Linked DNA regions of Homo sapiens. The protein of the gene in region 1 interacts with the protein of each later gene in a pairwise test. Each region holds a gene or a part of one and is shown in the gene's direction. Other genes may lie near its edges.

Evidence for each region. Proteins that work in one complex are often made in the same cells at the same time.
Region 2: the proteins of SFT2D2 (region 1) and ELOVL4 interact in binary tests that used the Homo sapiens proteins (3 or more experiments, as listed by UniProt).

What each region holds. Positions count from the first base shown.
Region 1 is NC_000001.11:168,224,371-168,228,844, forward strand, and holds the start of SFT2D2 (vesicle transport protein SFT2B), read left to right. Parts: upstream 1-1,633; 5' UTR 1,634-1,709; coding exon 1,710-1,772; intron 1,773-4,474. UniProt on the Homo sapiens protein: May be involved in fusion of retrograde transport vesicles derived from an endocytic compartment with the Golgi complex.
Region 2 is NC_000006.12:79,919,864-79,923,739, reverse strand, and holds part of ELOVL4 (very long chain fatty acid elongase 4), read left to right. Parts: intron 1-1,943; coding exon 1,944-2,115; intron 2,116-3,876. UniProt on the Homo sapiens protein: Catalyzes the first and rate-limiting reaction of the four reactions that constitute the long-chain fatty acids elongation cycle.

The sequences.
Region 1 (4,474 bases):
CATCCCTAGGCAACCATTAGTCTACTTTCTGTTTCTATGGGTTTGCCTATTCTGGACATTTCCTATAAATGAAATCATACAATATATGGTCTATTGTGTCTAGCTTCTGTGAAAGGGAAATATCTTGGGCCCCCCCAAATTACTAAAGGGAAAATTCAAGCTGGGAACTGCTTAGAACAAATCTGCCTCTCATTCTATTCAAAGTTATCACTGTGTTCACTGAGATAAATGCACATCTGATTGCCTCCTTTGGAAAGGCTAATCAAAAACTCAAAGGAGTGCAACCATTTGTCTCTCACCTATCTGTGACTTGGAAGCCCCCTCCCCCCTTGAGTCTTCCTGCCTTTGCTTCGAGTTGTCCCGCCTTTCCAAACACAACCAATGTACTTCTTACACATATTGACGGATGCCTCATGTCTCCCTAAAATGTATAACACCAAGCTATGCCCCAACGACCTTGGGCACATGTCGTCAGGACTTCCTGAGTCTGTGTCACAGGTGCTGTTCCTCAACCTTGGCAAAATAAACTTCCTGGTTAACTGAGACCTGTCTCAAATTTTCGGGCTCCACACTTCTTTCACTTAATACAATGTTTTCGAGGTTCATCCACGTTGTAGCATGTGTCAGTACTCCATTCTTTTTTATTGCATGGGTATGTCACATTTTATTTACCATTAATCAGTTGGTGGCCATTTGTATTGTTTCCACTCTGTTGCCCAAGCTAGAGTGCAGTGGCTTACTGTACTGACAATCATGGCTTACTGCAGCCTTGACCTCCTGAGTCCAAGCCATTCTTCCTCCTCAGCCTCGCAAGTAGCTTGGATTACAGATGCCCGCCAGCATGCCTGGCTAATTTTTAAGAATGTTTTGAAGAGATGAGGTCTCCCTATGTTGCCCAGGCTGGTCTGGAACTCCCGGGCTCAAGCCATCTTCCCAAAGTGCTGGGAATACAGACATGAGCCACCATGCCCAGTCTACTTTTAGTTTTTTTAAGGTCAGAAAAAAAAACAATTGTACAAACACAAAACAATTTAACAATCTATTATTCCTTTCAACATTCCTTCAGTCACTTTTTTTTTTTTTTTTTTTGAGACAGAGTCTCGCTCTGTTGCCCATGCTGGAGTGCAGTATCCTGGTCATAGCTCATTACAGCCTGGAACTCCTTGGCTCAAGTGAGCCTCCTGCCTCAGCCTCCGGAGTAGCTGGGCTTCCAGGCACGCCCCACCACACCAGACTAAGGCCTTGAGTGATTAAAAAGAAAATCTTTTCCTGTGTAGGCACGATCGCAATATGGATGAACCACAGCCTTTGTTCCCGTCTGCACAAGGCTTCTCCCCCGTCTTTGTGTCTCCGGAGCCTTGCACGTGGTAGGTGCTCGGCATTCGTTGACTGGATCAAGTAGGGCGAGGGAGCGCGGCCCGTTCCGGTTTGAAACTGCTCTGGACGCCGAATTAGTGTTTGGCAGCGCCTGGTGGTCTTCAATCCCAGCCCCTCCGGCCCGCCGCGCCCCCCGGGACCAAAACAAGCGGAGGCGAGCGCGGGCGCGCGGGGCATGCCGGGAGCCCCCCGGTGGGCAGGTGCCTGGGCGGGGCGCGCCGCGGTTGGCGCCTGGGCGGCTGGGCGGCTGCCTAGCACCCGGAAGAGCCGTCAACTTAGCGAGCGCAACAGGCTGCCGCTGAGGAGCTGGAGCTGGTGGGGACTGGGCCGCAATGGACAAGCTGAAGAAGGTGCTGAGCGGGCAGGACACGGAGGACCGGAGCGGCCTGTCCGAGGTGAGTGAGCCCGGGGCCGTCGGCCCCCTCTCGCCGCGCTCCCGCCCTGCGTCCCCTGCCCGGGCCTGGGAAGCCTGCGGGGACTCCCTGGAGTTTCTGGACGGTAGCTCTGCCCCTTCTCCTCCTCTTCTTCTGCAGGGCTCCGCGAAGAGGTCTGGCACTACACGGGGCAGTGGCCGCGGCGTCCTTTTCTGCCCCGCGCCCCTTCAGCCCATCCTCCCTGACAAGGGGGCGGCGCAGGAGGAAATCCCCGGACTGAGCTGCGAGTGGGAGGGTGGGCGACTGGGCTGTCGGCCCCGGCCCCACCGGCCGGGGAATGCGCTTTAGGGCCGGGTAGGGCTGGGGGCCCCGAGGTCCAGGCGGAAGGAGCCTTTGCTGGGTGGGTCGGGGCCCCAGACCCGGACTGGGGTGTTGGGGTGGCGGTCCCTACCTCGCGACGGGGCTGGTGGCCGCGCCCCGAGCTCTGCCTTGGTTTTCTGTCCGGTTTAGGTTGTAGGGTGTGACACTCCCACCCGCCCCTGTACACATTGCCTTGTGATTGGGGGTGAGAAACTGCCCCCATCCCATGAGGACAGGGACCACATCTTGTGTCTCTGTCCACACTGCCCACAACTAGTCTCTAGACACCCAGCGCCTCAGGAGACTGCCTGCGTGTTGGTTTGTTTTATTAGAAAAGCTTTTTTTTCTTTTTTTCTGAGACAGAGTCTCACTCTGTCGCCCAGGCTGGAGTGCAGTGGCGCGATCTTGGCTCACTGCAGCCTCTGCCTCCTGGGTTCAAGCGATTCTCCCACCTCAGCCTCCCAAGTAGCTGGGATTACAGACACCCGCCATCAAACCCGGCTAATTTTTGTATTTTTACTAGAGACGAGGTTTCACCATCTTGGCCGGGCTGGTCTCGAACTCCTGACCTCAAGTGATCCGCCCACCTCTGCCTCCCAAAGTGCTGGGATTACAGGCATGAGCCACCGCGCCCGGCCTATTAGAAAAGTTTTGATCGTGCTGAAACCTGGCCACTAATGTCCTATGTTGTAGAACCACACAGAATGCTGCATTTCTATTTAGGGTGCTTTTAGCTTTTGTTTTCCTTTTTGGATGACAAAATAACGTTTCTCTTCGCTTTTTGGTGTATTCTTTAGCCTCCGTTCCCCATCTGTGAAATGAGGATGTTAAGATGATATGGCCAACTGGAAACTAATCAGTGTTTCTTCTGGTTTCTCAGCAAGTTCTTCTTTCTCAGCAAGCTGCTTTCACCCACGTTTGTGGTTGCTGATTTTATTCGGTTTTGTTTTGTGTGATACTGGGACTTAGCATGACATCTCCGAATGTAAGATTGCTCTCTGAATCTTCACCTTGAGGGAGTAATTCTATGGGATCGAATGTTGGAGTCACTGAAATTTAACTTTTTGATATTTCAAAACAAGTTGGTGGGTTCTTTTTAATTTGTTGCCTTTATTAATTGGTCAAGGCTCAGAGTAATTTCACGGGTTTTTTTTTCTTGATTTCTAGCCTCTATTATGAATCTCAAGTGGAACCTCAGACCGGGCCTAAGAAAGGTCTGACTCATAGGTAGCTGACCCTCGTTATTTAAAGCTTTATTTCCATAGACTGTCAACAAGCCTTTATGAACAATTGGTGCTTAAGAGGCAGACACTTTCTCTCCCTGCAGACTCTTGAGGGGTGGAGTGTTGACAGTGGGATGATGCAGATATTATTGTCTCGAAAATCATCACGAAGCAGTGGGCTGACCCTCAACAGTGGACGACTAGTAAAGTTTGCAAACATAAATGCTGAGCTTGTTTTTAACCTAAAATGGTGAACGTCTGTGTTGGATACTGTGAGAAGGGCTTTAATGTGTTATGCTGAGGCATCTGTTGGATCTAATTTAAAAAGAATAGGTGCTTCGTTCTTGTTTTAAAATACTTTGGTCAGTTGGTCAGTTTCCTCTTTCTGAGTGAGATTTCTGTTTATAACATCATTGTATGGCACTTCCAGAGTCTTGAATTCCTAGGAAATGTTTTGTTGCCGACTAACTTCATCTTGCAGGCTGTTTCAGCTTAGTGTTTACTGATTAGGTCAGAGCCTCCTTTAAAATATTGGTACTGATTTGATTGTCTCATATTTTTCATGGTTTGGGGGCTGGTAGAACTGGAGGATTCTGTGGGGAAATTGCTATTTTGTGTGGTAAGTTGAATTAGGCGCTCTTAAAATCTCTTTAAGAGGTCACTAGAAGAGAGTGCTTTTTAAAACCTTTATTCCTTTAATGCAAACCATAAAGGTGTGACTAGTTCTATTTCTCCTACCTCTCCTAGGTAGTTATAAAATTTGCATGGCAGTATCTAATTATAGCCTCACGTTGAATTTTGTGATTGATACCTCATCTTCATAAATACACCTTAAGTCTTTAGTTTCAATGGACTTCTTTCTGAAAGTATAGGTTTTATGTTTTTTATAAAGGATTCTGGGGACAAGAAAGGTATGAATAGTATCTAATTTTAAAGTGTGGAAATGAAGCAGTATTTCTTTCTTACCTTCTTCTGGTTACCAATCCTGTTTTTCTGAACAATTCTTAGTATTATTCTTGGCAAGAGCCCCTCTTCTCTCCACATCACAGAGTGAAAGGGACCTTTGTGAATAACTGCCAGTCAGACTGCCTGTGAGCGCATTGCCTACAAATTCCATCCAGGTACCATTTTAGCTACTCT
Region 2 (3,876 bases), on another chromosome or scaffold:
TACTGGGGACAGGGGTGAAAAGCCCTGCCTTTGTGGGGCTGGCATTTTAGTGAGGGTGAGAAGGCAGACAGCAGCCATGTAAACAAATGACTAAGGAGGAAATAAAACCTAGAAGGTGACTGAGAGAAAATGAGAGACTACTCAGATGTATTGGCTATGAAAAATTTTCTTCTGATAACTATTGCCAAAGAATCTCTTCAGTTGGAGGGCTGACTTCTTGCTTGCCGTAGGGAAGGGAACAGGGATAAGTGTTTGACTGACTGACTTCTGGGAGTATGCATAGAAAAACCCTTGGGTGGGGCAACATATTACTATTTTTAGGATAAAGGTTTAAAAATACCACTCTCACTTACAGATGTAAATTTTCAAGTCTTTAAAAAATGAGCTATTATGAGAACTGTAATCTAGGAGGATAAAGAACCTGAGATTTGCAACAGATTTCATTTGAAATCTTCCTCGTGCTCTCTTCTCCTCTCTAATATGGGATGCAATAGAGTGAATATTTTACGCAGAGACTCATTTCTGTATTCATTGTTACGTAGCCAAGAAGTATCACTTTTTGGTGTAGTTTATTTAAAGATATCTAGTGCAGTTTGCAAACTAAGCAGACTTATTTGTTGTTATTTTATGTGAATTGTGGCAAATGTAGAGGTCCAGATAGAGGAGAAATAAGAGATTGTATCTTTCCTTCTAGTTAAAGGTTACGATGCCAAAATGGTGACAGTTACTTTATTTTAAAGAACTAATATAATAGTGAATATTAACTATAGTGTTGCTGGGAGTAGTTAACTATTTCAAGCTTATTTTCAACCAATTCATATCATTTTTAATGATATTTTTCAAGTAAATTCAGTAAATAATTCTCAGTTTGTAAATACTTTGTTTCTTATATGCTTTCTGTTTCTTCTTTCCCCATACTTTAAAATTATAATTTTGTTTTTCAAATGCAAAAGCCAAAACAAACAAAAATCTCATGACATATACCAGGTGCAGGTATAAAATGCAAAGGGATCCTTCAACTCTAAAACACCTAAGCCTGTCTGTGAATGAATCTGACAGGGCCCTAACACATGAAAGCTTATAAATAGATTTTAGTTATGTACTGCCTTAATTGTTATTTGCACATAGGATGCTTATCATAGAAAATACTTGACATAAAAAATTAAGTTTGGTTTACTGTTACAGTAGGATTCTTGTAAAACATTTTAAAACATACAGAGGTCACCTCTCACTGGATCCTTAATCTCAGTATGTAATGTAATCTTTCTGTACCATCTGGTGCCTTAATTAGAGCCCAGGAAAAGAAAAGACTTATTCATGTAAGCAGGATTATATTTATGACCTGGGAAATATTTGTTTGTTCATTCCAATTTTTTATTTTAAAGATTTAATACCTAATACAAACTGCTGTGATTGGATATTTATGTTGTTGCACATATTGGTGCAGTCGGAGAGGTGAGGGAGAGAGGGAGGTGAGGGGAGAGGGTGGGCAGACAGGCAGACACTTGTAGAGACCAGTTGCTACATGAACTTACTTGCAAGTTTTTCTGAGGTAGTATAATGTAGGCTAAGCATGAACAACTAAAATCATTTTACAAAGTAAACATCTTAGTTCCTCTACCAAGTTGAAAAGCACAGCAGTCTGAATGTGCTTCCAGCTCTGTATTCAGCAGTTTGACACTATGTAACATCTACCTATGGAATAGACAGAAAATGTTCTCTAACTTATTGGCACTGTATAGATAGAGCTTTGGACTCTTTCTTTTCTATTTTTCCCCATGGAGAGATGCTTAGGTTTTTCAAACCTACTTAGCCATTAATGATTCCATGCCTTGTACATTTTGTGCAATATACAAATGTTTATTTTGGACTTACTTACAATGAGTATAAACCCATACAATAGTGTCATTTTGGTGTTTATAACACGCTTTCCCTTTTTACAGATAGCTGCTGCTCTGTGGTGGTACTTTGTATCTAAAGGAGTTGAGTATTTGGACACAGTGTTTTTTATTCTGAGAAAGAAAAACAACCAAGTTTCTTTCCTTCATGTGTATCATCACTGTACGATGTTTACCTTGTGGTGGATTGGAATTAAGTGGGTTGCAGGAGGACAAGGTGAGCATTTTCAGGAATATACTGCTTGCGTTTAATTGCATATATGTGTTCAGTGGAAAGCAATGAGAACCTAGGACTTTGACTTGATCTACCATTTAACTTGCTTTCATGGTTAATCATTTCCATGTTCATTTCTTTTTTTTTTTTTTTTTTTTTTTTTTTTTTGAGATGGAGTCTCGCTCTGTCACCAGGCTGGAGTGCAGTGGCGCGATCTCGGCTCACTGCAACCTCCACCTCCCGGGTTCCAGCGATTCTCCTGCCTCAGCCTCCTGAGTAGCTGGGACTACAGGCACACACCACCACGCCTAGCTAATTTTTTGTATTTTTAGTAGAGACAGGGTTTCACCATGTTGGCCAGGATGGTCTCGATCTCTTGACCTTGTGATCCGCCTGCCTCGGCCTTCCAAAGTGTTGGGATTACAAGCATGAGCCACCACACCCAGCCATCATTTCATTTTTTAAAAAATTTGAGGCAAGTATAACTTTTGCTTTTTATCTGTGACTACTTTAATACCTAAAGATTTGCCCCAGAGATGAGCATAAACCAAGACTAAAGGTAGAAAACAATATTTTGATGGGGAACGGGTCTAGTAGTTCTGATCCAAAGAATACCAAGACACAGCCCCTCAAATCTGAAGATTTCCATCTTAGCCCATAGCTCACTCCTGCCCTAATACAGATTGAACATCCCTAATCTAAACATCTGAAATCCAAATGCTCCAAAATTCAAAACTTTTTGAGCACCAGCATGATACCACAGGTGGAAAATTACACACCTGACCTCATGTGATGGGTCACAGTCAAAACACAAGTGCAGAACACACTTTATTCAGTATACCTAAGGGAAAAAAGACCCTCTTAGCCCTTTTCCATGTACAGCATAATGTTGATGCCAAACAACCACAGATAATGTCCACACGGGTGACATCTTTGCTTTCTGATGTTCAGAGTACACAAACTTTGTTTAATGCATAAAATTATTTTAAAATTTTATAAAATTACCTTCAGGATACATGTATAAGGTGTATATGAAGTTTTGGATTTAGACCTGAGTCCTATCCCCAAGACACATCATTATGTCTATGCAAATATTCCAAAGTTTAAAAAAATCTGAAATCAGAAACACATCTGGTCCTGAGCATTTTGGATAAGGAATACTCAGCCTGTATAGGTCTTGTTGGTTCTTATTCAAAGGAAATTTTATATAGCCTTGTTAATGTTAAAGAGGATCTAAATTCATAGCTTGGCCAAGATCTGCCTCCTGTCTTTTCAGATGCCTGTAGATTAAGGATGATTCACATTGTTGAGCTTGATGCAGATTATTCCTCTGAGGAGGATCCAGGGTACAAGTCATTATAGTATAGTTCACCTTGCTGCTTTCCATTGTCATATTATGATAATTGGCAGCTTAGGAATTCATACATATATTATTGGGGGCCCAGTTTAAAACAATACAGTTAAAGGCAACTTCTGTAATTTTAAAAGAAAATTAGTAAATCTGAACTGACTTAGATCACTTTATGACAAAAATTAATTATTATTACATCTATACCTTGATTAAATTAATATTCTGAAAAGAAAGAATGTCATTGAGTTTGACTGACTGGAATATCTCTGTAGATTTATCTATATTAAATGAATTATTCAATGTGTGTAGTGCTGTCATATTTTAAACTATTTAGAAACCTAAGAAATAAGTACTGTTTTGTTGCAGATATATATATTGGCACATCTAAAGGCAAGAATAGTAGAATTAAAAGT